Regions from separate parts of the Homo sapiens genome. Here regions 1, 2 and 4 are each linked to region 3. The links come from fine-mapping of genetic effects on gene expression. A gene starts in region 3. Each other region holds a variant in brackets. All regions are shown on one strand. Distances are from middle to middle.

What was found. PIP is the estimated chance that this variant, and not a neighbour inherited with it, causes the effect.
Region 1: its variant is the best candidate, but not a certain one, in a credible set for the expression of PEG10 in blood mononuclear cells (TOPMed, PIP 0.68).
Region 2: its variant is the best candidate, but not a certain one, in a credible set for the expression of PEG10 in whole blood (INTERVAL, PIP 0.70).
Region 4: its variant is the best candidate, but not a certain one, in a credible set for the expression of PEG10 in tibial nerve (GTEx, PIP 0.61).

Annotation. Positions count from the first base shown.
Region 1 is chr7:94,489,977-94,498,121 of GRCh38, reverse strand. It overlaps the pseudogene RNU6-1328P. Among named protein-coding and RNA genes, the nearest start is that of CASD1, 16 kb to the left of the region's middle. The variant A/C (reference allele first, on the strand shown) is at 4,199.
Region 2 is chr7:94,548,960-94,557,104 of GRCh38, reverse strand. CASD1 (CAS1 domain sialic acid O acetyltransferase 1) reads right to left here. Exons shown (of 18, transcript NM_022900.5): 14 at 7,471-7,572; 15 at 5,627-5,767; 16 at 4,678-4,755; 17 at 2,530-2,622; 18 at 86-1,613. The coding sequence ends at 1,347. The region is part of intron 1 of LOC105375404 (a long non-coding RNA gene); the gene reads left to right. Among named protein-coding and RNA genes, the nearest start is that of CASD1, 43 kb to the right of the region's middle. RefSeq lists an enhancer at 946-995. The variant T/C (reference allele first, on the strand shown) is at 4,044.
Region 3 is chr7:94,653,749-94,661,631 of GRCh38, reverse strand. It overlaps PEG10 (paternally expressed 10), which reads right to left and starts at 5,307. Exons shown (of 2, transcript NM_001172437.2): 1 at 5,041-5,307. The coding sequence starts at 5,045. It overlaps SGCE (sarcoglycan epsilon), which reads left to right and starts at 5,499. Exons shown (of 11, transcript NM_003919.3): 1 at 5,499-5,642. The coding sequence starts at 5,534. RefSeq lists enhancers at 2,981-3,275, 4,055-4,104, 5,374-6,151 and a silencer at 3,345-3,584.
Region 4 is chr7:94,632,390-94,637,389 of GRCh38, reverse strand. All of the region lies in intron 1 of SGCE (sarcoglycan epsilon), which reads left to right. It also overlaps a transcript of CASD1 not described here. Among named protein-coding and RNA genes, the nearest start is that of SGCE, 21 kb to the left of the region's middle. The variant T/C (reference allele first, on the strand shown) is at 2,654.

The DNA of each region.
Region 1 (8,145 bases), 160 kb after region 3:
ACATAGCAAGAGGTATTAACTAACTGTATATACTTCCTTGAACATTCAGTATTGAGCAACTACAGAGGCCAAATAATTAAATTCTGTCAGGTAATTTCATTAGGGAATATAGGATTCAATTCTTTAAAAGCCTGTTATTTTTTTCTTCTATCCCAAGACTACAAAACCAAGCCCCAAAATTCTATCCACCAAGATTACACTGTCATTTCTAATAGATTCTGGTGAATTTCTTTCGACTTGAAGTCTCCAAATACTCTTGAGGTCCCTGGCTGACTAGTAAGTGATACTGCTCATCACTTGTGAGGCTTTAACCATAAACCAGGTTGATTTTTTTTTTTCGAGTGGGAGTGGGAAGTGAAATTTGTGGTCATTGTTTTCACATCTTGCTCCTTAATGATGAGCTTTCCATATTTGATTAAATGTCATTTTGATACGGACAGGAGGCAGGGAAATACTGAGTAGAAGATGGTGGTTCCCTGGCAAAGGCTCCACCTGGAAACTGCCACCCTAAATAAGAATAGTTATTGCTGTTTTCCTGCCCGAACATTGCTTTTTCCAAACCACCCTGGCCTGCCATGCCCCCATCCTGTGTACCCATAAAAACCCCAAACTCCTCTGGCAAAGGAGCAGAGCAGCACAGCAGAGAAGGAGAGAAGAAAAGAAGCATCTGAATATCAAAGAGGCAGCTGGACGGTCAGAGAGGAGTTTGGCTGGGGGTGGCCAAACTCAAGGGAAGATTGTCTTCCCACTCCATCCCCTTTCCAGCTCCCTATCCCACTGAGAGCCACCTCCATCAATCAGTAAAACCTCTGCATTCACCATCATTCAAGTCTGTGTGACCTGTCTTCCTGGATGCCGGGACAAGGACCCCAGGTACCAAGAGAGCAGGTTATAAAAAGCTGTTGCCACAACTCTCCACTGAGCTGGTTAACACTTAGCTGTCCATGGATGGCAACTGCTAAAAGAGCATTAATTGTAACACATCCCTAGATGCTACCATGGGGCTGGAGCCCAAAAACACTCACCCAGGCCCCGGCACCCGCTTGCCTGCATGCTCCCACTCCTGCGTGGGGTTTGTGTGGTGGCTGAGTAAATGAGCCACACCCATGTCACCTGAGAAGGGGTCCGAAGAACTCTCCCATCTCAATTTATTCTCAAATGTGACTCCAGGCTGGGCTTTGTATGATGAGGTCAAAATTGAAGACAGTAAAATTCTCTGTTGAGGTGCAATACATAATTATTATTTTTGTTTTTGTGAGACCGAGTTTCACTCTTTTTGCCCAGGCTGGAGTGCAATGGCATGATCTCGGCTCACTGCAACCTCCACCTCCCGGGTTCAAGTGATTCTACTGCCTCAGCCTCCCGAGTAGCTGGGATTACAGACATGCACCACCACGCCTGGCTAATTTTGTATTTTTAGTAGGGAAGGGGTTTCACCATGTTGGCCAGGCCGGTCTCAAATTCCTGACTTCTGGTGATCCGGCCGCCTCAGCCTTCCAAAGTGCTGGGATTACAGTCGTGAACCACTGCACCCAGCCGCAATACATAATTTTTTAATAAGAATTTGATCAGTGTTTTTCTTATAAGTAAAACAATACTATGAACAGTGAGAGCACAGACAAATATCCAGGGCCTTCCAATTTATTCTGTAATGTGTACAGTCTCAGAAATAAATGTGTGAGTAATATTTTGTTTATAAAATTTATCCTTTAGATGAGTCCATGTCCTTTGCAGGCACATGGATGAAGCTGGAAACCATCATTCTCAGCAAACTATCACAAGAACAGAAAACCAAACACTGCATGTTCTCACTCATGAGTGGAAGTTGAACAATGAGAACACATGGACATAGGGAGGGGAACATCACACACTGGGGCCCATCGGCGGGGTGGGGAGCTAGGGGAGGGGTAACATTAGGAGAAATACCTAATGTAGGTGATGTGTTGATGGGTGCAGCAAACCACCATGGCACGTGTATACCTACGTAACAAAACTGCACGTTCTGCACATGTACCTCAGAACATAAAGTATAATAAAACAATTTTTAAAAAATAAAATGTATCCTTTAATTTGACTACTATTTTGATCAATTCTTACAATAGTGTTGAACTAAGAAAAAAAGTCAAGGAAACAATTATTTGGTACATCTCTACTTTTGTAAAACAAAAGAAAAAAGCTTCATGATTTTCTAGGGGTCTTATGGGAAATTTCAAAGATAGTTTTATGTGTGAAGAAAATCCTCTAATTTTTATTTTTCCGAAGCTAGGATGTGATTGTGGGAAAGCAAAACCAAGAGTTATTGGAGTACTTTAGATCACCTATTAACATAGGGTCAGATGTGCCTGAGAAACAATAAATTCAATATCTGTTGATCAAAATGACAATACAATATTTTAAATAACAAGAATATGATGACACAAAAGAAAGGAGTCTTAGCTTTTCAGCAAATGAAGAACTTTAAGTTTTTGCTGCTTAAAAATCAAGGGCTTGAAAATATGACCATAAAACACAGAAAACTGTTTTGATGGGATATGGAATTTCTGCTATGTTGTCAGGCCAGATAGAATGTAAAGGCATAAACTTTTACTACCCTTTGTTAAGAGCAGACCAAACAGTTTGAGATACACTGTTATTTTAGTACATAGAAAACCAAATTCTAGTTTTACATTAATATAGTAGTTAGCAGGAAAGGATTTATTAGCTCCTTGCTCTATTTTTTTTTAATGGAACACATCATGATTTTGTGTGTCATCCTTGTGCAGAGGCCATGCTAACCTTCTTGTATCATTCCAATGTTAGTGTACGTGCTGCCTAACTGAACAACCTGCCCTATTTCTGTTGTATTTTTTTGAGACAGGGTCTTGTTTTGTCACCCAGGCTGGAGTGCAGTGGCATGCTTATGGTTGGCTGCAGCCTCCGTCTCCTGGCCTGTCCTATTTAAAAAACAAAACAATCTTACAAATAAACTCATCAAAATTGAGGGAACGTTGCCAACATTTGAGTATATTTTATTGTTTCTTTTTCAACTCATTATTTGCAGTGAGGCAAATAAATTGTTTTCTACTTACAACTTTCTACATCTATTCAAGATTTGTTTTACACAATTCTTTTTCGCATTCTAGAAGAACCAAACCTTTTAGTTTAAGACAGAAAATATTTCCATTACCTCGCATTCATAGTCACAATTTTCTGCTACTATTGCTTTAGTATAGTCTTTGATTATTTGTATAAATTCTAACTTTCAGTCAAAGTAGCTGATTTCTATTTCACAGAGAAAACTAGAAGGGGATGTAGAAGTATCTATTATACACAGTTTAGCAAATTAACAAAACTAATGAAATCACCTCCTAGAGTCACCCACATCCATTTTTCACTCCTTTAAATCAGAGTAAACCCAATCATTAGTAAGGTAAACACAGTCATTAACATGAACAACAGATATATCCACTATAAGAAAAAAAGTGTATATATTCAAAATATGTAGGGTGACCAAATTTTAGTATTCTATTTCCCTTAAAAATTATCTAGGTGTCCAAGTTATCTATTAAATAACTTGATCTAAGAATAGACTCAGGTTTTAAAGTTAAATAAGGATCTTAGTTATGTTGACAAACTACAACTTACCGTATTCTAATTTAAGAATTTAGACCATTTGTATTCACATAGCTTAATGTGGGGACTTAGAACAGAGACTCCCCCACGTTAATTTGACTTACTTATTGTTTAAGAAATTCTTGCCCAGAAATATAAAGCTATAAACCAATATATAACTTTACTACTTGCTTCAGGAAATTCCTGAAAAGCAACTTGTCTATATAGTTTGTTCATCTGGCCAAGCAGTTCTTCTATCGGGATAATAGATTGCTTATCTGGCCAAATGGGCAGCTTATTAAAAAAATTACTTACGGGCCGGGCATGGTGGCTAATGCCTGCAATCCCAGCACTTTGGGAGGCTGAGGTGGGCGGATCACTTGAGGTCAGGAGTTCGATACCAGCCTGGCCAACGTGGCAAAAGCCTGCCTCTACTACAAATACAAAAATAAGGCTGGGCATGTTGGCTCACACCTGATCCAGCACTTTAGGAGGCCGAGGTGGGTGGATCATCTGAGGTCAGGAGTTTGAGACCAGCCTGGCCAACATGGTGAAACCCTGTCTCTACTAAAAACAAAAAACAACAAAACAAAGCAAACAAACAAAA[A/C]AACTCGCCAGGCGTGGTGGCAGGTGCCTGTAATCCCAGCTGCTCAGGAGGCTGAGGCAGGAGAATTGCTTGAACTCAGGAGGCAGAGGTTGCAGTGAGCTAAAATCTCACCATTGCACTCTACCCTGGGCCACAAGAACAAAGCTCCAACTCAAAAAAAAAAAAAAAAAATTAGCCAGGTGTGGTGGCAGGTGCCTGGAATCTCAGCTACTTGGGAGGCTGAGGCAGGAAAATTACTTCTTGAATCCAGGAGGTGGAGGGTGCAGTGAGCCGAGATCATACTACTGTACTCCAGCCTGGGCAAAAGAGCAAGACTTTGTCTCAAAAAAAAAAAAAAAAGAAAAAGAAAAGAAAAGAAAAAGAAAAATTACTTATCAAGGCTTATGTCAAGAAGTTGGCCTTTCTGGGTCTCCTAATCCTAAACTGTAAGTCATGAACTGTCCTCCAGTTCAGTTAGTTTCTTGTCTTGATAAACCTGACTTAAACAACTGAAGCCTAGATCCCTAAGCCTTATAAATATCCTCCTCTTACGTTCCCATTTTGAGATATTACTAGGATCTCTCAAGGTGGTATTCTCCCTTGCTGTAGCAGACTGAGCTTTGATTGATCAACAGAAACTGTAAGTTTATCAATGTTTTTGGTGTAAGGTTGAGAAATTTGTGGCAATATTGTTATGTGGCAATAGAAAACCAGTTCAACCCCATCAGTAAAATTAGGGAAGAGTCATATAGCTGTTTTCAAATCAAAAGTTACCAAACAAGCCTAATCTGTAAAAGATTCACCTTTATTTTATTTTTTTCTCATAAAATATATGACTCAAAAGATTCACCTTTATAATATGAACTCATGTTTTCATACAAACCTGCTTCTGATCTTGAGATTTCCATAATAATTTTTAAGCCTAGTTTTAAAAGAACAATTTATTTCCTGAGAAATTTGTGAATGCCAGTTATAGAAGTGCTTATTTTTCTCTATGAACCAATTAGAGAGAAGCTATTTAAATTTCAGAGACTTTATAATTTAATTTATTTACATACATGAGGTGGAAAAATGTCAAACTCACGCAATGAAAGGTAAAGGTTTTTCACAATTACAGATAGACTTACTGAGACTGAGAACTTGAAGTTTCAGTTCTACAGCCTCAATCATGAGTCAACAGTAAACACAGAACCATAAAAATCACTAGTGCAGATCTCAAAGGGACATTTTACTTTTAGTGAGCATATAATGTTTTCCTGATTGAGTTGAGCTCACAAATAGTCAAACAGACAAGTAAATAAAAAGAGGGCTAACAAACCGGTTTTTTTATTCTCTCTCACCCAACAGAAACTGATCCCCTTTATATCCTGAGAGAGGTCACTACATGATCACATCATAAAACCAGATTCCCAAATACTACCCAAATACTACTTTTTTTTTTTTTTGAGACAGAGTTTCGCTCTTGTTGCCCAGGCTGGAGTGCAATGGCTTGATCTCAGCTTGCTGCAACCTCCGCCTCCTGGGTTCAAGCAATTTTCCTGCCTCAGCCTCCTGAGTAGCTAGGATTACAGGCACCTGCCAGCACACCTAATTTTTGTATATATATATATATTTTTTTTTTTTTTTTTTTTTTTTTTTTTTTTAGTAGAGACAGCTTTCACCATATTGGCCAGGCTGGTATTGAACTCCTGAACTCAGGTGATCCATCCACCTCAGCCTCCCAAAGTGCTGGGATTACAGGTGTGAGCCACCACGCCCACCCCACAAATATGACTCTTATGAATGAAGAACAACTTGTTGACTATGTACAGTCAGACTTAGATATACATGAGATGCTTTTTTGACTATGAAATCAATCGTCGATGTACCCACTTGTCCCCAGGTCTGGCTGGGGACAAGAGTTAGACAAGACATCAAGAGTTAGCTAAGAGCCAGAAAAAAGAAACAAAAACTCCCATGGTATACTTAGAGAATGATGATTTAGGCTTATTTATTTATTTATTTATTTATTTATTTAAATAGGCTTTTGGGGAACAGGTGGTGTTTAGTTACATGAATAAGTCCTTTAGTGATGACTTCTGAGATTTTGGTACACCCAACACCGAAGTAATGTACACTGTACGCAATGTGTAGTCTTTTATCCCTCACCTCCCTCCCACTCTTTCCCCTGAGTCCCCAAAGTCCATTAAATCATTTTTATGCCTTTGCATCCTCACAGCTTAGCTCTCACTTATGAGTGAGAACATACAACGTTTGGTTTTCCTTTCCTGTTTTTTTTCACTTAGAATTTCATCCAGATTGCTACAAATGCCATGATTTTGTTCCTTTTCATGGCTAAGTAGTATTCCATGGTATACATATACCACATTTTCTTTATCTACTTATTGATTAATGGGCATTTGGGCTGGCTTCATATTTTTGCAATTATGAATTGTGTTTCTATAAACATGCACGTGCAAGAATCTTTTTCATACAGTGACTTCTTTTCCTTCGATAGATACCCAAAAGTGGGATTGCTGGATCCAAGGGTAGATTTACTTTTAGTTCTTTAAGGAATCTCCACACTGTTTTCCATAGTGGTTGTACTAGTTTACACTCCCATCAACAGTATAAAAGTGTTCCCTTTTCAGCGGAGGTTGCAGTGAGCCGAGATAGTGCCACTGCACTCCAGCCTGGCAACAGAGCGAGACTCCATCTCAAAAAAATAATAATAATAAATAATAGATGCCCACATCTATTATTTTTTATTGTTTGATTATGACCATTCTTGCAGGAGTAAGGTGGTATCACACAGTGGTTTTCATTTGCATTTCTCTGATAATTAGTGATGTCGAGGATTTTTTCATGTTTCTTGGCCTGATATAGGCTGTTTTAGTATCAAAGAGTTTACATGAGCAGTAGGATGGCCAAAGGGGCCATATTACTGATGATCTTGAATGTTTAGAAGTGACAGCAAATCACTTTTTAATATGTTAAAATAAATTTTTCATGAAAGATAAAATCATAACTTTTATATTAATATAAAAATAAACATGTTAAATATTTGTTTAACTCAAGAGGAAACAGGTGAGGTGTTACAACGAAGTCAAGGAGGAATTTTTAAAAATTATAAATCAAGAATATTTAAATAAATGTGCTAATGAAGGTAAGACTGGCTTCATGGGGACAGGTGGGAAAGGAGGCAAGCCAGTTGACTCTTCACCAGAGAGAATTTACACTTCATAGACAATAATTATTGTACATTGCTATCAGTTATCTACAATATACAGAGTTGTAAATAGCTCAAGCACAATGAAGGACAAGAATCAGATGCCTGGAAGTTTATGATCTAAATAATACATACTTTTTTACATTGAAGCACAATTCTTTCCCTACAATAACCTCAACTGGCTTGATGATGGGAAAGCAGTAAGACACATTTGAAAACTACCTTAGGGGAAAAAACTACACAAATTCATGGTTTCTTGGATGTAATAAATGATTAGGAAATAGGATTCAGAGGTCATTCATTACAAGTGTGGCAATTGCCTACTTGTTTGGTGGATTGCTTCATGGGAGCTAGGATAATGACTTATAATGTTGGGGACAATAATTGGAAGCGGAATAAAACATTTTAGAAAGTAATCATTTTGTTAACTCAAGTTCTATGACATTGAAATAGAGTTCCCTTTTATTCAACATTGTATTGAAGTCCTAGATAAAATGGAAAAAGTCAAATTATCCTTGTTTGCAGATGATAATGATCTTATATTTGGAAAAATCAAAAGACTTTACAAAAAACTATTAGAACTGATAAATTCAGTAAAGTTGCAGGATACAAAATCAACATACAAAAATCAGTAGTTGGCCAGGCGTGGTGGCTCATGCCTGTAATCCCAGTGCTTTGGGAGGCCAAGGTGGGTGGATCACCTGAGGTCAGAAGTTCAAGACCAGCCTGGCCAACATGGTGAAACCCTGTCTCTACTAAA
Region 2 (8,145 bases), 100 kb after region 3:
ACCCCTACATATTAAGCAATTTAAAAAGCAAATTTAAGTTGAGGAAATAATTAGATATTTGAACCAATCATGAATGGATCCAGCATTTTTGAAAAAGAACACATATAGTTTAATTGATACTTTGCCAATACAAAAATAAGCATCCACAGAATGTTTATTTACTGTTTAAATTACTCCATATTTTCATATACTGTGAACAGAAAATATATTTTACCCCACATATAGTAAAAGCAAACAAGTGCAATCTTTCAAACATTAAAATCATAATCAAATCTGTACAACAGATAAATAAATGTATACCTCTAACAGTTAGCTTGTAAAAAAAAATCAAACAAAAAGCAAAAACATTTATTGCCCAAATTCACCAGTTTACTTAAAATTCTACTTATGGTAATACAGCTCAATCGTAACAACTTGCATGTTTACTACACTGCACAAGTTTAGACTGATAAATATTTAAAATAGGAGGTGGGTAATAGGAAATACCAAATGGCTATAAAGAGCTTTCCAAATATTGGAAATAATATACGAAAATTAATTAGTGGGGATAACATATTAAATGGATCCACAGGGTAACTGGTATTACACTGGTATAGCTTGAGGAAAGGAAACAGGTGAACGTTTGGATTGGAAAAAAAATTTTGGCTTTTTTATAAAACGAAGCAACAATAACATCAACAATGACAAAACCCTGTCATGGAGCCTCAGAACTATTCTGTGAGACAAAGTGTACAAAGATTTAGGCTTGCATACCCGAAAACCACAGTTAGGAAGAAAAATCATTTCAGGAAACAACATCAGAACAAGAACACATATAAATTAAAGGCATACTGTTTATCATTCCACTTCATTGCACATATAAGAAAACAATACTGCCGTCATTCTTGAGTAAGAAAGTTTCCAATGAAAGAGGAAGTTCCACAATGAATACAGGTGCAGACAGTCTTATTACCACAAATTTAGTTATATCAAAACACTTGGTGGTGTCACTAAGTTAATTAAATTATCTATACTTTTTACTGGAAAGGTAATCATTTCCCTGCCTTCATATGTTAACTTAAAATCACTTACAAATGGAAATATAGATTCAGTAGAAAAGACTTCACATGCAATCCTATACAATGCATTCTGGTTTTTTGTTTGTTTGTTTGTTTTAGTATTTCATATTGGATATGTACATTTCCAATATATACAACCACATATGTTCAACAGATGTCACAGAACTGTCCTCTTGCCACAAACGTTTATATTTACATACACATTTATATCTCCAGATAGATGCTTTTCTCTTCTAGAGACACACAAAGGTAGCCTGAAGAGTTTAGGTTTTTTAGAATTTTTGGAACCTAATGTTTTGATTTATCTTGAATGGATGATAAGATGAGGAGTCCACAAAAAAATGCAGCTATACATGCCAACCTTTTCAAGAGAGATGAGTTATCTTTAGGAATAATAATCTGTGCAAGATCATTAGTGATCTGAGAAATTTCATGTGCCACACAAACAAATATGAAAGTGCTGACAATGATGTTGAGCATAGGGTTTCCAGGTATCAGTACCAAGATACCCCTTGTGTCCGCTGCCAGCCATATGTGATACTGGCAAATAAATAGCTAGGAGAAAAAATATTTAAGTCAGATATTTATAGAGGGTCCATGAATAAATTACAGTTTTCCCTAATTTAAACAATTTGGTTGCATAATAACATTAGAAGGCTTTCCTAAAACCATTTTATTCTGTCTCACTACTGGCCCTGAAAAGTCCACTGCAGTCTACTCCTTAGAACTCCAACTGCTAATACAATCTCTCTTATAAATGAGACCAAAGAAAATAATAGAACAATTATTCAAGAACTCAAAGAGGAATTTATTTTCCCTATTTTAAGAGACAATTTAATAAATCCTATACTCTAAAAACTCTAAAATATATGTTGTTATTACAATATAAATTGTTTTAAAACATTCTATTTCAAATAATAAAGCTTAGACTACTCAGAATACATTTTAAAACCTACTGTTCAAACTGATTTTGTAGATAATTTCATATTATGTATCTTACACAAAATGTAATGAGTTTATACTTTCTCCCACAATTTCCAATCATAATAAGGGTAAATTTTATTATGGTATGCATCAATAAACTGAATTCCAGTAATATATTTAATTATGGAGATGAACAAAAAATCAAAATCCCCTCAGTTTGATTTCATTTATATACCTGGTCTAATATTTTTCTCTCTTGGTCTCAGCATCTTGGTTGTGCTTGAAAGCTCAAGACAACGTAAATAATATTTTGCAAGTAATCTATATCTAGTCATTTAAAAATAAGGCTTAAAAACATTCCAAAATACTTTAGTATTGTTGAAAGTTCTAAGTCTTTTCCCTGTAATTCCATAATAGCTTCAGTTTAGAAAAAAGTACGTCCGATTTTCATACTCACATATATGTGTGATATTTACACACACACACGTACATACACAAACATGAAACACCTGGCTGTGTAAGATAAGCAAAATATTAATGTACCAACCTCTAATGAAATTTTTCCAAACCAAGCAAAAAATGAACTGTAAACTGAACGGGCATATCCAGGGATGTTTCTTATTAGGATGAAGGCTAAAATCTAAAGAAAAAGCACAAAAGCAAATATTAATAATCTCTTTATTGAAAAGTATTTTGTATAAAGCTTTCTTTTAAATGATAACCTTATTCTTTATGTTTGTGAACTTGACACATATACAACAGTCTTTTTATATTCTAAAAGTATTAGAAAGTTATTTTTGTTCTAAAGTCTACCCAAACTGGATTTCTCAACACATGGTCGGTATGCTGCATACCAATGAACATTTTAAGTAGTACATGGCTGAACAATTTTATGTATACTGGAAAAATTACAGATTTGCCTAAGGCCCTTTGTGTAGAAAAAGTTGCTATCATATTTATGTAGCAACACTTCACAAAATCATATAATTTTGCTGCTCTCATAAAGTATCTGCTTGGTTGACAGTCATTCCCTCTCTTGACTCCCTTCAAAATCCTCCTTCCGCTGACAGCCATGATAGTACGGGAAATGGCATGGCTTTTAACATGTCTTCATGTTTGCTCTGCATGGCCTGGCGAATGATGTCTTGAACTATATTCACATGTAATATATTTTCCTCTCTGGATCTTTTCTCTCCCGAAAGAATCTCCAGCTTTTGGGATCCTGGCCTTTACTCCTCTCCCCTGTCCTTTTGTACCAGGTGGAACAATCTTTCATTTTCGGTGGAACAATCTTGCATTTTCTTTTTATTTATTTATTTATTTATTTATTTATTTAAGTTCTAGGGTACATGTGCACAACGTGCAGGTTTGTTACATATGTATACATGTGCTGTGTTAATCATTGTCTCACATCCAATAACCAGCTTACCAAGCAAAGAATCCTTGCCTTAGAATGTACCCTCCTTATAAAAAGCAAGAAACTGTAAAGAAAAAAAGTTATCTCCACTTTCACAACTACTTTCCAGAAACTTTCTCTTACAAAAGGATTGACAAATCTGTTCACACTTCAGGGAAAAACTCATATTCAATGTTGATCAACCTGGGCATTTTGTCAAAGGATCTAAGAAGTCTCTAGGATGCATAAAAGATGAAGGAGGAGGAGATAATATGGGAAAAAGGAACCAAAGTGAACCACTCAGGTATAATTAAATTGAGTGATTCTCATGGGCAATAGCATCAAAAAGACTCAAGTTTAAATCTAGTCTTTTGCTTGTGTTAGTCCTGGGACTTGTGGCAAGGCACTTAATCTTGTGGGTCTTTTTTTTAATTTAAACAAATAGAGATAAGCTTTACTTTGAAAGGTTCATGTGAACATTAAATGAGAAAACATACATAAGGTACTTACTATAGCACAGGTTGTGAGTCATTTAAAGAAACATTGTAAATAATTAATAGTATAAGTGATATACAGAGTGGTGAAAATCATGAATGTGAGACCTAAACAAAGGCTTTAAACATAAAACCATTTAATGAGTTATTATAATTAAAGTATTGCATAAG[T/C]TGTACAACGCTAAAAAGAATGTAGGCTCCATAAGAGTAGGAACTATGTCTGATTTGGTAACCACTGCAGCCCTTGGCATAATATCTAGCATGTAGTATTAACTTTTTGGTTTTGTTTGTTTGTTTGAGACGGAGTCTTGCTCATTGCCCAGGCTGGAGTGCAATGATGCAATCTCAGGTCACTGCAACCTCCGCCTTCTGGGTTCAAGTGATTCTCCTGCCTCAGCCTTCCAAGTAGCTGGGATTACAGGTGCCCGCCACCACGCCCAGCTAATTTTTGTATTTTTAGTAGAGACAGGGTTTCACCATGTTGTCCAGGCTGGTCTCAAACTCCTAACCTCAGGTGATCCACTGGCCTTAGCCTCCCAAAGTGCTGGGATTACAGGCGTGAGCCACCATTTTCTAAGGGCAGATTAAGTGAAAAATACTGAGCTACATCATTTCCATATATTAAATACAAGAACCCTTTGAAAGAGATTTTAATATCCCTATTACTACAGAGAAAGGAAGGGCTTAGAAAGATGAAGTAACTTCTCTACATTTTCTGGAGTTCAATCTCAAATCTCTCTGCCTCTAAAAACCATTTTCTTATCAAGAATTAAGATGTAGAAATTTCTCTAAATCAAGATAGTACCTGTACCACAGAAACAGACGGATGGAGTTCATTGCACTCTGCTTTGTTTTTACAACTGCTAGCCCAGATGGAATAGGTCTAAAACAAAAAATGTATGGAAAAGTTCAAAAAAGCAAGTCTGGAAGAGGCATAAGCCTCACAGTGTTTTTTTTTTACAGTTCTTTATTTATAACATTATACTTCATTATGCTATGTAAAAACTATCAGTAAAAACTGCTTGCAAGTTTGCTCATCACCTGTTTTGGTATGTTCAACTGTCCAAACATAAGAAAGCACAGAGGGAGGTGCACAAGTCTGTGCTTTTCTGGAAACAGTGATCAAAAGGCAGTGATGGCTCTCCATATGAAACACCTTACATTACATTTTATCCCAAATTTATTGTAACTTTTAAAATTCCCGTTTAATTGAGCTCTTATTTATTCTTCATTTTTAACTTATATATAGTCTCTTTAGAATTTAAGTCCAGTTAGAAAAATAAGGAGATATACATCGCCTCAAGCATTTAACATTACCTTGATTTGATCATTATGCATTGTATGCTTGTATCAAAATATCACATGTGCCCCATAAATATGAACTAATATGTATTCATAATTAAAAACAAACAATTTTAAAAAATTATTGAAACTATTTTTATAGATAAAAATATAGTTTATCTTGGCAAACATTTTGCATGCATTTGAAATAAATGTGTATTCTGCTGTTATTGCTTACCTAACTATTCTAACATCAGGTCAAACTGACCGTGTCCTTAAGATATTCTACAACTTTACTAAATTTGTCTAGCTATCCTATCAATTACTGGGAGAGAAGTATTAAAATTTCTAAATATTAAAAAGAAAAATAAGGAGAAAAAAAGATTTATTATTAAAAATAATTGATTATATTTCCATATCTTAATGTTAATATTCCATACCATTTAGAATTTTGGAAAGTTTTCAAAACTTACCAAGAAAGAAACTACTGAAATAAACAACAGAAAATTTGAAATTTTGTTTGAAAAAAGAGGTTCACCCTTTCCTTCAGAAAGTATTTGACGCTTCTGCAAAGCCAGATAAATAAAAGCAAACAGCATTCCGTGGAAAACTACCTGAAAAGTAAAGAGAGAAAATTTGTTTTAAACAGTTACTTTTCAAAAAACAGGAAAAATATTTGGTTAGTGAGGAATATATGAATAAAAGTAGGTAGGTTAAAAGCTTAAAGTTTGAAGTGTCTATGAAGGACTTCAAGAGTGAAACTTCAAGAAATGAAATAAAGCCGATGATTGTTAGAAACCATCAGCAATAGACAAGCAAGCATCTCTTGGAACAATATGAGATAACACTGGTTGATTCTGAGCAGTCTCAGTGGCAAGTGAAGTAATAAAGACAATTTAAAAATAATAAGGAACTCTCCTACAGACATATGATAAAATTTAAATGCACCCAACAAAGATGAAACACATTTTATATCAGTCCTTTCAGTCAAATAAAACAAAGAATAACACCACCAAGTCATAATTCTGAAAAGAAGTGTACGCTCATAAAAGTGAAAAAAATATGGTAGACCGGAAAGTACATGAGCTTTCTCTTTTTAAACAAGGACTTAATGTGAACTATCATTGCAATAGACTGAACATTTCCTTCCACTCAAAATCGTAAGTTGAATCATGTTAATCCCCAGTGTGACAGTTTTGGAGGTAAAGCCTTTGGTTGGTCATTAGGTCAGAGCCTTCATGAATGGGATTCATGCCCTTTAAAAAAAAAGACCCCAGAGAGCACCCTTGACCCTTGCAGCACATGAGGACAGAGTGAGAAGTCAAGTGTCTATGAAATAGCAAGTGGGCCCTCACCAGACCAAATCTGCTGGTGTGATTTTACACTTCCCAGCTTCCAAAACTGTAAGAAATAAATTTTTGTTGTTTATAAACCACCCAATCTATGGTACTCTATTACAGCAGCCTAAATAGACTGGGACAGTCGTATCATAATACACTGCTCTAATGAGAATGTTGAGAATTTAAAAATTATTTGATGTGAAGACTTTAGCAAAGATTTTATTCAGATGTGGTTTTGAAATGCAATGTAGTACACTGGAAAAATGCATAGGGGTTGGAAACTAGGAAAGGCAAAGAATAGGCACTAAGAAAACATTTATTGGAAAAAAGAGATCAGTCAAAAAGGAAAGGAAAAAAGGAAAGAATGAAATAATTAATAGTTATTATCAGTTTTCCAAATGCTGTGCTAGATTTACATTTTCCTGGCCAATTGAACCTTAACCTTTCTTCAAGATCAAGTTCATAGACTAATACAAGACACTGCTCTTTCTTCTTTGCACACTTCTACCACTAAATCTATATTGCATAGTTAGTAGCCTCTTATAATAGTAATCTTGGGTTTTAAACTAGACTCTGAAAGCTTCGAAGCCTGCTGAGATGTCTTCTTTCTTTCTCTAATGTATACTTCATGGCATCAACATCTAGGGCACATATTGAAACTCAATAAATATTGTTTTGAATGGCTGAAGCATATATACAACAAGTCACCTATAAATCAAAATTATAAGTCAGACAAAGGCCATGTTATAGATAATATTTTAAAATAATATTTCCCAGCAGATATATATATACACATGCATACCCTTTCACTGCTGTAAAGAAAAGAGTGCAGGGGGTAGTGGACTGCTGGACTGCTTTGATTTACTAAATCAACATCTTTATTTATTCTGAAACTAAGTATAGATAGATCAAAAATTTCCAATCATTTTCCAACAGTATAATTTGAAATGACAAAATATCACAAAGTAAATACATACATAACGGTCTAACCTCCATCTGAACCACCATTCATATACATTCCCTTTCAGTTCAAAACACTTGGACAATGGCCAAAGAGAAAAGATCTTCTCAAATGCACCCTGAAAAAAGGAATCCAGAAAATAAATTAAGATGGTACAAGTCAATATTTGCTTTGCAATTCTATTACAGATTATAGTTTTCTGAAGTTTGGATTATATAAGAGTCATTCACAATGTTAAAATTCTGTTTTATTTCATTTGAAAATATCACTTCATTTGAAATGTATTTCAAATGAAATTTTAAAAATTTGAAAATAAATTTATCTTCTAATGACCAAAAAAGATGACTTAAAACTTGGTAAACTTATTTTCATTTCACATGAAAGGCTACTGAGAGTGTAAAATTTTCTTAAGCCCCCAAATCAAAAAATCTGGTAATTAGAAAATCATTCTACCTAAGGTTTTTAATCTCACAGACAAAATAACTAGTATTTACTCATCAAACAGAAAAATACAAAATATTTCAGCCAGTATGGTATCAGTATCCCAAATAACAACTGTTAAAGTTAAAATATAGTTATCATTCTCCAAATGTCCTCAATAATCTACAATTAACTATTTGAGTTAAAAGAGTCCTCTGAATTAGTCACCTTACTCAATCAACCATACCCAAATTCCATTACCAGCCTTTGA
Region 3 (7,883 bases):
CCTCTCCAACTCCTAAACTCTTTAGGTACCTCCCATGCCCCAATGTCACCACCCACAGATACTATCCCTGTGTCCTTTGCAGTTGGTGTAGCCTCTCCAAGGAGTGGCTATACAGCAAGCAGGGTCTTTAAGAGACAGGGAGTAGTGTGACATTTTAACAGTTTTAACCCCACTACTTAATTACTTTAGTAACTTAGGCTATAAAAACAACAAATAATTGACATTCAAGATAAAATATTCAAGTTTAGAAAAAATTAGAAAACACAATAAACACATCATAACCCGTGACATTCAGTATCATTTCCAACTCCTTAAAGACAATTGTATTGCTGACCCTGACAATATAACATCACAACATAATGCAATTTTTCCTTATTAAATTAGGAGTTTTCATGTCCCATTAATGAACAACTAATAACCATAAGTAAGGTGACTAAGGTACCACTTTTGTCATCTAGACATTAATATCTTCAAAACCTTGAGACAAGACTTCCTAAAGAGCATTCACAGCATGGCCTGGTGCAGCCTGACCACTTGTCAATCACGGCCACTAAGTGGGGCTTTATTGAAGCCCAGGTCTGATGGTTTTATTATCTGCAAAAAACAGTGATGGGACAGAAATAACAATACATTAGGAAATCAGCAAATAATTACTACATGGTTTAGGGAAATAAAAGATCAATAAGAGTTAAAAATTCAAATACCTTTGGTATATAAGGAAGGTAGTTGAAAAGTGAAAAGAGACCAGAGTTAAGATGGGAGGGGCTGCAACAATGGAACTTGGGGGTGCATGCCCTCCCCCTTACCACCCTCCCCACCCCTGCCCCCCTGCCACCAGACATTTCATTCTTTTTTATTTTTTAATTTAGTTCCTGGTCAAACAAATTCAAGGCCTACTTTAGCCTGCAAGGTCACTAGCTTAAGACTTCTGACCTTTGCCAATAACAAGCCTGAGGCCTTCATATGAGGGTTGGCAAGTTTAGGGTGGGACGTTAAAAGAGACAACTGCCCAGGGAACAGTAGTTTATCCATTAAAAGTAATAGGGTAATGGGCAGGCAGGTTAACAGTGCGTATAAAAATGTTTAAACAGCGACTGAGGCAGCACAAGTTAACCTGGGACAAGAAGCATGTTTACTTGATTTGAATTATAGAACTATGTATGGCTCCTTAAACTCCCCCTTAGTAGGGGCTGCATTGGAGGGGAGGGGTCAAGAGGTCTCATTCCTGAAAACTGAAAGGACAAACTGCATAAAGCCAAGTTGCCTAGGACAGATGCCATCTTTACATGATAATAATTTCAGTTTTAGTCTTTTTAGGAAATAAATACATTTGGTTAATTATTGACTCTTCACAATAGCTTGGAATAATTTCTATTCCACAAACACACCAAAGAGCAATAGTAGCCAAAAACCATAAATGAACATCCTGTTAGGAAATGACATCTCATTAAGCAACTCTTAGTTGCTTCATATTTTCAAATGTCCAATTTTTTAGTACTATCTTGTACTATTTATGAAATGCAAATTCTCTTAATATGCATGTTATTACTGTTGTTTTGAACCTCTTCAATATGCAAATATACAATATCCAAAGAGAAGGGAAAATTACTTAAAGCTGTAATTATGATAAGCACAAATTTTCCATAGATTGTGTACTTGTGGTGGGGAGGGGGTATGTGACAGAGATTTTTGGGAGCCAAAGCCCCCAATTCCTCCCCTACCAAAGTCCTGGCTCATGATTTGTAATATATGGAACCAGGTTTTAAAATTTCTTCATTCAGCTGGAAACACAATTCTTACATGGTACCTCTTACTAGCAATCAGTTATAAATTTGTTTTATACAGTTGTTTAATTTTGCAAGCTGAAACAACCTATATTTTGTAATGTGGCCACTTTATATTACATTACACAAACTTTAATACAATATGTACCATTAATAATACACTTGCCCCAAATTTAAATTAGCTTTTTATGAAAAAAGCTAATTATTTGGAATAACTAGCTTTTTATGAAAAAAGCTAATTATTTGGAATAACTAGCTTTTTATGAAAAAAGCTAATTATTTGGAATAACTAGCTTTTTATGAAAAAAGCTAATTATTTGGAATAACTAGCTTTTTATGAAAAAAGCTAATTATTTGGAATAACTAGCTTTTTATGAAAAAAGCTAATTATTTGGAATAACTAGCTTTTCATGAAAAAAGCTAATATTTGGAATAACTAGCTTTTTATGAAAAAAGCTAATTATTTGGAATAATTAAAATTAATTTAGTTGCTTTGTATTATAATTACAGCTTATATCATTGGAGTTTAAAAACACATACACTTTTTTTTTATTCTGTTAAATGTGAGAGATAACGCAAACAAGGCAACCCAGGACAGCAAAGCACCATAGGAAAGGAGCAAATCAGAAGAGACCTACAGACACCAAGCAAGACACTGAATAAACCAATTTACTCTGGTCATTTAACACATATTTAATGAATGCCTACCATGTGCAGGCACAATTTATTATACATAGGCAAATAGGCTAGGGTTAATCACCTAGAGATTCAAGGAAAACACCCAGCTTCATAGGCACGCAAATAAAAGCCTTATCCTCACTCAGAGGCCAAACCAACAGCACCAATTTTGTATCCACCAAAACATCCGATTCCCAAAGGTCCACTAGTGCCTCTAAAAAAACCTTAAATGTGAAAATATTTTTAAAGTTTTTAAAAATAAATTGTTAAGTTTTGGTTTTCATTTGCAGTAAAAACATTTGGCTAAATTGCCTTTAGAGGCACCAGCCATGTCAGTTTACAAGGTCCCTTCATAAGCCACTATCAGGAGTTTAAATTGTGGGATTATGTTATTGAATATATGCAAAGAACATATTAAAAGTGCTCATAAATTCCAGTTATAATTATTATTGTTAATTGTTTTATTTATTATTCTATTAGACTCTAGTAGCCAAAAAGCAAAACCAACACAGCAGAGAAACCGCAGGGGGGCGGGGCTGTACAGCCAGGGCTCAGGCAAGGAAGGTGCGCAGGTGCAGAGGACCGGCGCCTGAAGGGAGGGGCTGAGGGTTCACACTGCGCATGTGTGCTAGCCGGCTCTGAGGGAGGTGGGACTATAGGCCAGCCCGGCAGAGGCAGGCTTAGGGAGGGGCCAAGCCTTGGAGAGGCGGGGCCTGAGCAGGCTACCTAAGAGGAGGCGGGCCTGGGGAGGTGGGATCTGGGTGAGCTCACATCAGAGGAGGCGGGCCCAGGAGAGGCGGGGCCTGGGCAGTTCACCTCAGAGGAGGCGGGCCCAGGAGAGGCGGGGCCTGGGCAGTTCACCTCAGAGGAGGCGGGCCCAGGAGAGGTGGGGTCTGGGCAGTTCACCTCAGAGGAGGCGGGCCCAGGAGAGGCGGGGCCTGGGCAGTTCACCTCAGAGGAGGCGGGCCCAGGAGAGGTGGGGCCTGGGCAGTTCACCTCAGAGGGGGCGGCCCCGGGAGAGGCGGGGCCTGGACAGTTCACCTCAGAGTAGGTGGGCCCGGGAGAGGCAGGGCCTGGGCAGCTCACCACAGAAAAGGCGGGCCTGGAAGAGGCGGGGCCTGAGCAGCTCACCTCAGAATGAGGTGGCCAGAGAGAGGTGGGGCCTGGGCAGGCAGGCGCTAAGGAGCTGGGAGGAGGGGCCTGAGGAGGCCGCATCTAGAAGGCGCGCTCTGGGAAGGCGCGCTGCAGGGGAGGCGCGCTCTGAGGAGGCGCTGTAGGAGGAGGCGCTAAGCACCGCAGAGAAGGCACACTAGGATGGGCGGGGCAGGCCTGAGACTGGCTGCTACAGGGCTGCAGAGTATCTGCACACCCCCCCCCCCCGCCGCCAGAATCCCCCCTCCCAAACCCCTCCCACCAGTCACCAAAGCCAGATTCATTTCATGCAGCAAGAGCAATCCACAGATCCAATTCCCCCGCCATACTCAGCAAACCCACAGTTTCCACAAACTGTTGCTGGACGCTGATTCGCGCCACCACAACTACACCGCCACTTCAATCAAGCACAAGTAGGCAGGCAGCCTGCTCTGCCATCACCAAAAGATTCCCATTTCCACTCCAATCAGTGCCCCTCCACTCCACTGCTATAGCGGGAATGGTGTGGGCAGAATGTTAAACACTAATTTTTGCCCGGGGCTCCATTTTGTCTACCAGCACCATCATGCGAGAACCGTCCTGCAGAAAAATAGAGTGGGAGCCATTCCAAAAGGTGAAAGGGTGGGGTCCTGCTCCAAGAAAACAGAGGAATTGTACTCCGCAGCTCATGTCCCACTACGGCTGCTTTATTTGTAGCGCAAACGGTCTGCAGCTCCTGTACCTCTGCAGCTCTTACCACTTTGTAGTGCATCTTAGGTGTGAATTGTTCCGCAGCTCATGTACCTCTGCAGTTCATGTGCCTCGCAGCGCAATGAAGCGCTGTTGTCGGGCTGGCTAATCGCATCGTTTTTGTAGCGTTTTTTGTAGTGCTACTCTTCTGCAGCTCAGATTTTGCAGCGCATGTAAAGCGCAATTCAGTTTTCTGTCTGCAGCTCCTATATCGCTGCTCCTCGTTCTGGATTGTAGCGCCACTGAAGCGCCCATCCGTCAGTTTGTGGCACATAAAGCGCCCATCAGTTTATAGCGCAATGAAGCGCCAGTTGTAGCTCCCATCAGTTTGTCGCCCGCGTGAAGCGTGCTTGTAGCGCATCTGAAGCGCCAGTTTGTAGCGCATTTGAAGCGCTTATCTGTTTGTAAAGCATGGCACTTGGTAGCGCATTTGAAGAGCAAATTGCAAATCGATCTATAGCTCCTGACCGTCTGCAGCTCATCACTGTCCGCAGCTCATCTCTGTCTACAGCCCGTATCTGGACTTGGTCCTGGAAACCCAAGCCTTTAAGGCTTGGTTTCCCCATTTGTTTTGGGGTACAGCCAGTGAAGGCGTGACAAGTTTTGCGTGGAGACATTCTGGGGTGCTACTCCATCTCCCGCAGCTCCCGATAAGCACGGGGAATGAACGTGATCTTTAAAAAAAAAACGTCCTCACCGCATACTCACCACGCGAGGACTCCTCTGCGAAGACAGGAAGGATGGGGTCCCACACCTGAGCCAGGCGCGGTCTCCACTGGGTGCTCCGCAGCCCGGAGTGGCTCCGGACGACAGCCCGCTCAGCGGACCTTTCGCCAGGCTCGGTGGACCTTCTCCGCTGTTCTCCTCAGGGCGCAGTCAGGTTTCTTCGACACACACCAACCGAAGTTGAAGCGCGTGTACCAGGAGCGCAGACTGTGAGCCTTATATAGGTTGCACCGAGGAGGGGGGCGCCAAATCCCAGCGTGCTCCGCGGGCTAGGGGGTGGAGGGGGGTGCGGGGATGGGGGATGGGGGTGGGGGCGGTGGCCACGCTGCAGTGGCCCGCCGCTAGAGGGAGTACGGGATTACCGAGGGGGTGCGGGATGCTGATGCTGAACTGGCCAAGCTGGGAGGGAAGAAGAAAGGGAGGGGAGGGGAGAATCGAGGACGGACGGCCTAGCCAGGCCAAGAATGCAATTGCCCCGGTGGTGGGAGCTGGGAGACCCCTGTGCTTGGACGGGACAGGGTCGGGGGACACGCAGGATGAGCCCCGCGACCACTGGCACATTCTTGCTGACAGGTTAGTGGCCTGCGCGCGACGTGGAGGTCCCGGGGCCAACAGGCCGCCGCCTCCCCCTCCCCCGCTCGGGTTCCGGGCGCCTGAGCGCGCCCTTTGGGCACCAGCCTCTCTTTCTGTCCCGGACCCCACCGTACCCCTCCTTCAGTACACCCTGTACCCCATTTCCCCGGCCCAGCTTCTCTCTCCCCAGGCTTGACCCCTGGCCTTTTTTTCCTCTCCGCGCCCCCGCGGGCCCCTCCCTGCTCTGCGGGCGCAGAAATTCCATCTCCAATTCCTGTTCCCAACATCCCCCTCCCCGCCCAGCCCCAGGGTAGTCCTCTCCCGATCCCTGTAGCAAAGAGCTGGGGGTCGTTGCCTGTTTTTCTGGGGGGCCCGTTTCCCCGCGATTGGGCTCTGCGACCGCGATGCGAGCCAAAGGAAATGGGTGTCAAGCTGCGTCCCCGCTACACAAACACATCTTTTTTCCTTTTCTTGATAGTGGTAGAGAACACAAAAATGTGACATTTAAAACACCGAATTTCCCCCTCTTGCTAAGTGCATTTCTCGGTGACGGAAATCTCGGTTTTCTTCGGTTTTACGGAGCAGGGAAGCGGAATCATGAAATGCTGGGAGCTAAACAGGGCGTTCAGGTCAGGGTTAACCCCGGCTGGAGGCCAGAGATGCTGCCGTACCGAGTGCGCTATTTCCAGAAACCAAAACCAATTTAAAACAGCTGTGGATGCTTCCAGTGTGTTTGGCGGGCTTTGAAGGCTCCCAGCTACCGACTTTTGGTGGCGATTACGAGGTTTACACAGAGACCTTGCTTCCCTTGCAACGTTACATTTTCCTAAATCTTGTAGGGTGAATGAATGCGTTTAGTCACGGCAACCGCACGTTTAATCCTTTCCAGCGGGTTGCCGAGATTCGGCCACAAATATTTGCGTGCATTTGTACTATGAACATATATATTTTATGTCAGGGAAAATTGCAGTGGCTGATAAGACGCTAAAATTCTGATGAGGAAGGATGCTAAATAAAACCTTAACGCGGATTCCCATCTAAGCGCCTCAGTGTCAGGTGCTTGGGAAACTGACAATCTGTTGATGATCTTAGTAAAACAAGTTTAAGTTAAAAGGGAAAACCAAATTGTCTACAGCTGAGTTAGGTTTCTGAAACACAGATGAAACGCTTTCATATTTGAAGAGCAAAATTGAGCACATTTTAGTAACATTGCTACGGATTATTTTATACTTGGAATATCAATAAGAATTTGACTTATTGTCATAACAACGTTGCAGACACCGCACTTTAAAAGAGAGCCTTTCTAGGAATAAACAAAACTGTAGCCCATTTACTGAGATTTTACTTTTTATTAGAAAATGCCCACTATCCGGAATATGAATGAATGAAATGCAGCTTTTTAACAAAGACATTTCCCTAGGAAGTTGGGTAAACACAATTATACTTTTTAGAAGTGCCTTTTAATTTAATCTTTAGGATGTTCACCCTCTTCTGCAAGATAGAATAATTCCAGGATTTCTTATGCTTGGTAGAGTACTGTTCTGGTGACCGCTGTCAAATTCTTACCAGTTTTGTTTGTTTGTTTAAATTCGAAAGTTACTTCACCTAGTTAACTGAGACATTATTTTTCTAAAAATTGAGATTTAAAACCAGTATAGATGAAAAGCAGGAAAAATTAAAGTTCAAAAATCCATCTTAAGACTTTAAAAGTTTGAACAAGTTTGAACCAATTTGATTTTTTCATTTCAAAATGCTAACCAGGACTTTTTTTAAAAAACGTAATTAGTATTTTACCATAATAAAAGTAATTTCAGGTCATTGTACAAAATTCAGGAGAGAAAACCCTAGAAAACTCTAAAGAAAAGGTCACCTGTAACCTATTCACCCTGCAATAACACCAGTAAACATTATAGAGTCTGCTTTTTCAGACGTTCTCTATGCATATATAGGTAGCTATACAATAAATATTTTTCATAGGATTGCAGTTAAATACTTTCTAAAAGTTAAAAACAAGATCAAATTAATTCTCCTCGATTATTTTCTTTCCAAAGAGCCTTTAAATGTTAAATAACATTAAGTTTGGAGAGCTTTCTTTAAAGGAAATAATATTAATTTTTTAATTAAAATTTTAAATGAACAACCTTAGTACATAAATATTTAAAACCAGAAAACTGAGAAGAATTTTCTCCCATCTCACTATTCTAACATATTGTAGTTTTTTATTCCTCTACATATGAAAAT
Region 4 (5,000 bases), 23 kb after region 3:
GATTATTTTTCTTTCTTCTCATCCTATTTATATCCTATCATTATAGTTCTGAATTATCAAGATACCTTATACAGGGAGTAAGTTTTGTCAACTGTATGAGGAGAATTGTTTCATCACTTTTAAAATTATAATAACAAATACTAGTAACTTGTATGGCAAGGCCATTTTAAATGCTGTCTCAGATATAGAATGTTCTTTGAGATGTTCTTGACCATGAATCCCAGTCATCTCTTTTAGAAAATTTCAAGAGAGCACAAAAGATGATAGGATCATTTATATATAAAATAAATTTGACAAATATATGTTTTGTGTAGCTTTTTTTTTTTTTTTGAGATGGAGTTTCGCTCTTGTTGCCTAGGCTGGAGTGCAATGGTGTGATCTCAGCTCACTGCAACTTCCTCCTCCCGGGTTCAAGTGATTCTCCTGCCTCCTGAGTAGCTGGGATTATAGGCACCCACCACCACGCCCTGCTAATTTTTTGTATTTTTAGTAGAGATGGGGTTTCACCATGTTGGCCAGGCTGGTCTTGAACTCCTGACCTCAGGTGATCTGCCCGCCTTGCCCTCCCAATGTGCTGGGATTATAGGCGTGAGCTGCCAGGCCCAGCAAAGAATATTCCAATTCTTAGCTAAAGCGGTAGGATGGTACTTCTTCTGTAAATAGGATTCTAAGGAATTTGAATGCCTTAACTTTTGACATTCTACCTCAGCACCCAGTAAGTGGTTACAAAAGCAATAAGGAATACTCCAGATATGGACTATGGAATCTCTTCTTTTTTTCCCTGGAATGGGAGTAGGGGACCTACTTGAGCAAGCTGAGGGCCATCAGCTTCTTTGACACACCCACTCTTCCTTTTTTCTATTTTCTAGTTATGGGTCCTATAGGCTTGAAGCAGTCACTTAGTCCCTCTACGTTCAATTTTGTTATCTATAAAATGGACTGAACTCTCCAAGAGAGCAAATGCATGCAAACTCTGATTGTTAGTAACTGTCAGGAATCCTGGGTTAAGTAGGAGGCAGAGGCCATATGCAGGTAGGAAATAATGTTATGATCTGTCTCTTAATAAAGAAATATATTTGGCATGCCCAGACAGGATGACATATAAAGCTCTTTTCAATGTAGCATGCTATGACACTAAGCTTATTGATCACCAATTAGCAATGGTTTGCAACCTTTTTCCGATTGACATTTAAAAAACACACACATGAAATCACACAATAATCAAGATGTTTAGTTCCACTTTGGAAAAACTGAAAGTAAGTGGTTTTAGTTGGGGAAAATATCATGAAGAAACTCTTCTGCTTTTTTGTAGAAGATTCAAGTAATGGTTTCCTCTCCTACTTCATGTAAAGAAAAGTGGCCATATCTCCTAGAGAAATGAAGTTTACAAAGACACTGTAATGCCTTCTTAGTGATGGATTCCACAGCCAAGGCATGGACTATCTGTGACTGAAAAAAAAACAATAGCTGGCCAATGCCAGATGAATGGCCTGCAGTACTTTGATGTTGAGTGAATTAAAGGTGAAGGGCAGACTGCTGAGAAAAGCTTTTGATTCAAAGCCAAGATTCATAAAGTTGTATTGATAAAACACAAGGTAAATCTTAGTGAGAAAAACAAAAACAAAAACAGGTTGTCTAACTGGCTGGATATTGATCTCTCTTAAAATATTTCTCTACAGCAATTACCTGGCTTAATAATTAAATTTCAATTTGACTGTAGTAACAACATGTTAAAAAAATAAATTAGAAAGGAATCCATAAATGTATCAGGCTATGCAAACTTTGAAATGAGTTCTTTTGATGCAGAGACAGCAAGTGAGATTTGCCTCTTGTTCAATTCCTATGTATACAGGGACTCTGAATCTCATAAAGAGTTTTTAGATGTTAAAACTATAAAATATGAGACGAGAAGTATTATTTTTTGTCAGTACTTAACATTTTTAATTATCAGGGATGATGATACCTAGTTGCTTAGGCAACAATTTATTTTAAAAGATACAGCAGATAGGTGGCTGTTTAGTACTCTCTTTGTATCCTCAACATACCTTAAAACCTTCTTAATCATTCTTATCCAAAACATTTTTTTAGATAATACTTACTGTTAAGGCAATACTTAAACTAAGTTCAAATTACTTGAACAACTAATTTCCTAGCTGTGAAATATATACTATCATATTTAAATAATTTGAACTTAGTTAAAACACCTTTGCGATGCTTCCCAATGAACAGCTTCCATCTTCAAACTCTTCATGTGAGAAACAAATTGATAAAATTGAAATGCTTTTAGAAATAGACTTTAATTGCTTATTAATAAGTTACTTATTAATTATATTGTGTTATAGTATCTTAGGCTGATTTAGCTATAACTAAGGGCAACATATCATTTAATCCATAGATCTCTTCGTTTAAATTGTGCAGTGTATTTCCCACATATCGAATATGTAAGTGTTTTATACAATGCATTCAATCCATTTTTTATTTGACAGTTCACAGTTATGTAATATATGGGTTGAATTAAGACTTTCAATTGTACACCTATTTATTTGTGAATGTATTTTATAACAGAGTTTCTGCTGCCATCACCTTAAGTAATGGCTCTCTCTCAAGTATAGTAAGATCATCTATTCAGAAGTGTACTGCGTCAACTAAGAAC[T/C]AGGAAATACGCCACAAAAGAGTCTTTCGGCAGCCAAAATAGATGCTGCGAATGCAGGCTCCTGTCTTTTACATCTAGCAGAGCCCTATGTGTGTTAAACAGCACGCATTTGTTTTTACTTCAATGTGCAACCCTGCCTCATTTGGTAGTCTGGTTTCTAAACCTGCAGCCGATTAATAACAGCAAATTAGAGGGGATAGAGAAGCTGCTATGGGAAACATACTGATAGCAATGAGAAATGACAGCTGACAACTTGTCTACAAAAGAGAAAACAAAATCTGTAAAACACACAACCTTAAAAAGCATTAGCAGACTGGGACCCACAGTGTGATCGGTAAATGACAAGGCAACCAAACAGTCCATACGGGTATCACCGTATAATAGAGCAGAGTGCAACAATTGATGTACAAAATGATGATCTTATACCATCATGAAAAAGAATCAACTGCAGAGTACTTCAGAAACATCAGCTCTGTGGAACAATTCATTTCATGTGGTTCTGGTAAACTGAGATTTTATTAGATCCTTGTAAACCTTAAAAATTAGAAAATGATGATATAAATGGACATTTTAAAGTGATTAGTTTATTAATAAAGCATCTATAAGAGAGACCTAAACATACTGGGTACCTAATCAAAGTCACCCGGACATAAATATTGACAATACTTTATGACTTTCTTCTCAAAGATTTCAGAAGACAGATGGCTTTAAGATTTAAAACTAGCTCAAACTTGCAGGGTCTTATACTCAGTTGTTATTTTATCTTTATAGCCATGTAATTGTTCTTGGTGATGCAGAAAAAGAACTGGCAAGTGTTCTCTGGACATTTTTGTAGTGAAGGGGCTGTGTGTGTGCCTGTGCTTATGCACATGCCATTAAGAATAATCATTGTGAGAATTGTGAAGTTATATGCTGTGGATTCATTGGCAGCGTACCACCATAGTACTTTCAAAATTTAATGTTTACTAAATACATTCAAACTTGCTTTGAAGGTAATTGTAATAAGCACACGTGCACACCCATATATTTTCATTATGGAGAGAGAGTTTCCACTGGACTATTAGTAAAGGAAAACAAGACATTGTTTAGCTAGCATGAGCTCCCTTTTTTTTTGCTACTGCTTTCGTGGTCTGTTATTTGATTCTGGGCTCTATGCTGTCACATAATATAGAGTTGTTGAAATGGCTGCAGATTCTATACCCTGTGAATGAAACATACAGATAACAGTTTTGTGAACAAGGTTTTGGTAACATGGTGATGAGATAAATTGGATCTATGTTTAGGGAGAGCGAGATAATGATCCCAGCTACTTGCTTACATAACCCTTTGGCTCTCTCTACTCAGATATGTAATTATTACTTAAAAAATTCTGTTCCTTATGACTACCTGTCTTCAGAAGTTTTTAATCTTTGTAAATCTAGCTATGCTTGCTATTTGGAGATGATATTTTTGACCTCTTGCGGGTTGGACTTTTGGTCTCATTGTTTTTCCCATTAATAGTGATAGAATTGCATGGATTTAACCACCCATAGTTTTCCAGTTTCATTTATATCTAGTGGCGTATGTTTGCAGAGGTAATGGATTTGCAGCCGTAGAAGATTGCAAAACCATGCGATACACAGAGAGGCCAGACCCTGTTACCTTGGCTTGATTAGCATGGCACTGTACACATGTATATTTCAGAGATTATTAGATCTTAGTGTTGTGGATTCTTAGAGTGTTTAAATTTGATTTTCAAGACTTGCTCTTAAGGAAAACAACATGCTTTAAGCTTATGGTTTGTGAGTGCTGCCTGGGCATATGTGACTGCAACATGTGTTAACTGTTAGTAATAGCCTCTGTAGGTGTTGGAGTGGACCCCATCAGCTTTATTTATATAGCTCACGTTTAGAACAAGAACCTATAGCTTCGAATTCTCTGTGTCATTTGTTGTTTTTGAAAGGAAGCATAGGTGTAAATACTGCCTAAATTGCCTCCGTTGCAGAGCTATTTGTTTTGCAAGTAACAAATGCGAAAGGGAAAGGCAAAGGGCACTCCTCTAAAATGTTGTGTGGGTGCCTGTAATTTAAACTGATGCTACAGAAAGGAAGTATTATTTTTACAAACAAAACATAGTGGCTTAGTCATTTTCCATTTCTAGATGATGAATGTGTCATACATCTGTATCATGTTTTTCTCAAAGTGAATGGCATACTATACTTAAAGTGAAGCAGCCTTTACTGTGGAGTTGCCAAGGTAACTGACCAGCAAGTATGCAGTTCAGCAGATTGCTGAAAGGCAATTGAGTACACATGAATAAAGAAATGTGCTTGTCATCTTCAAACCCAGGAGGGCCATGGTAGATTGT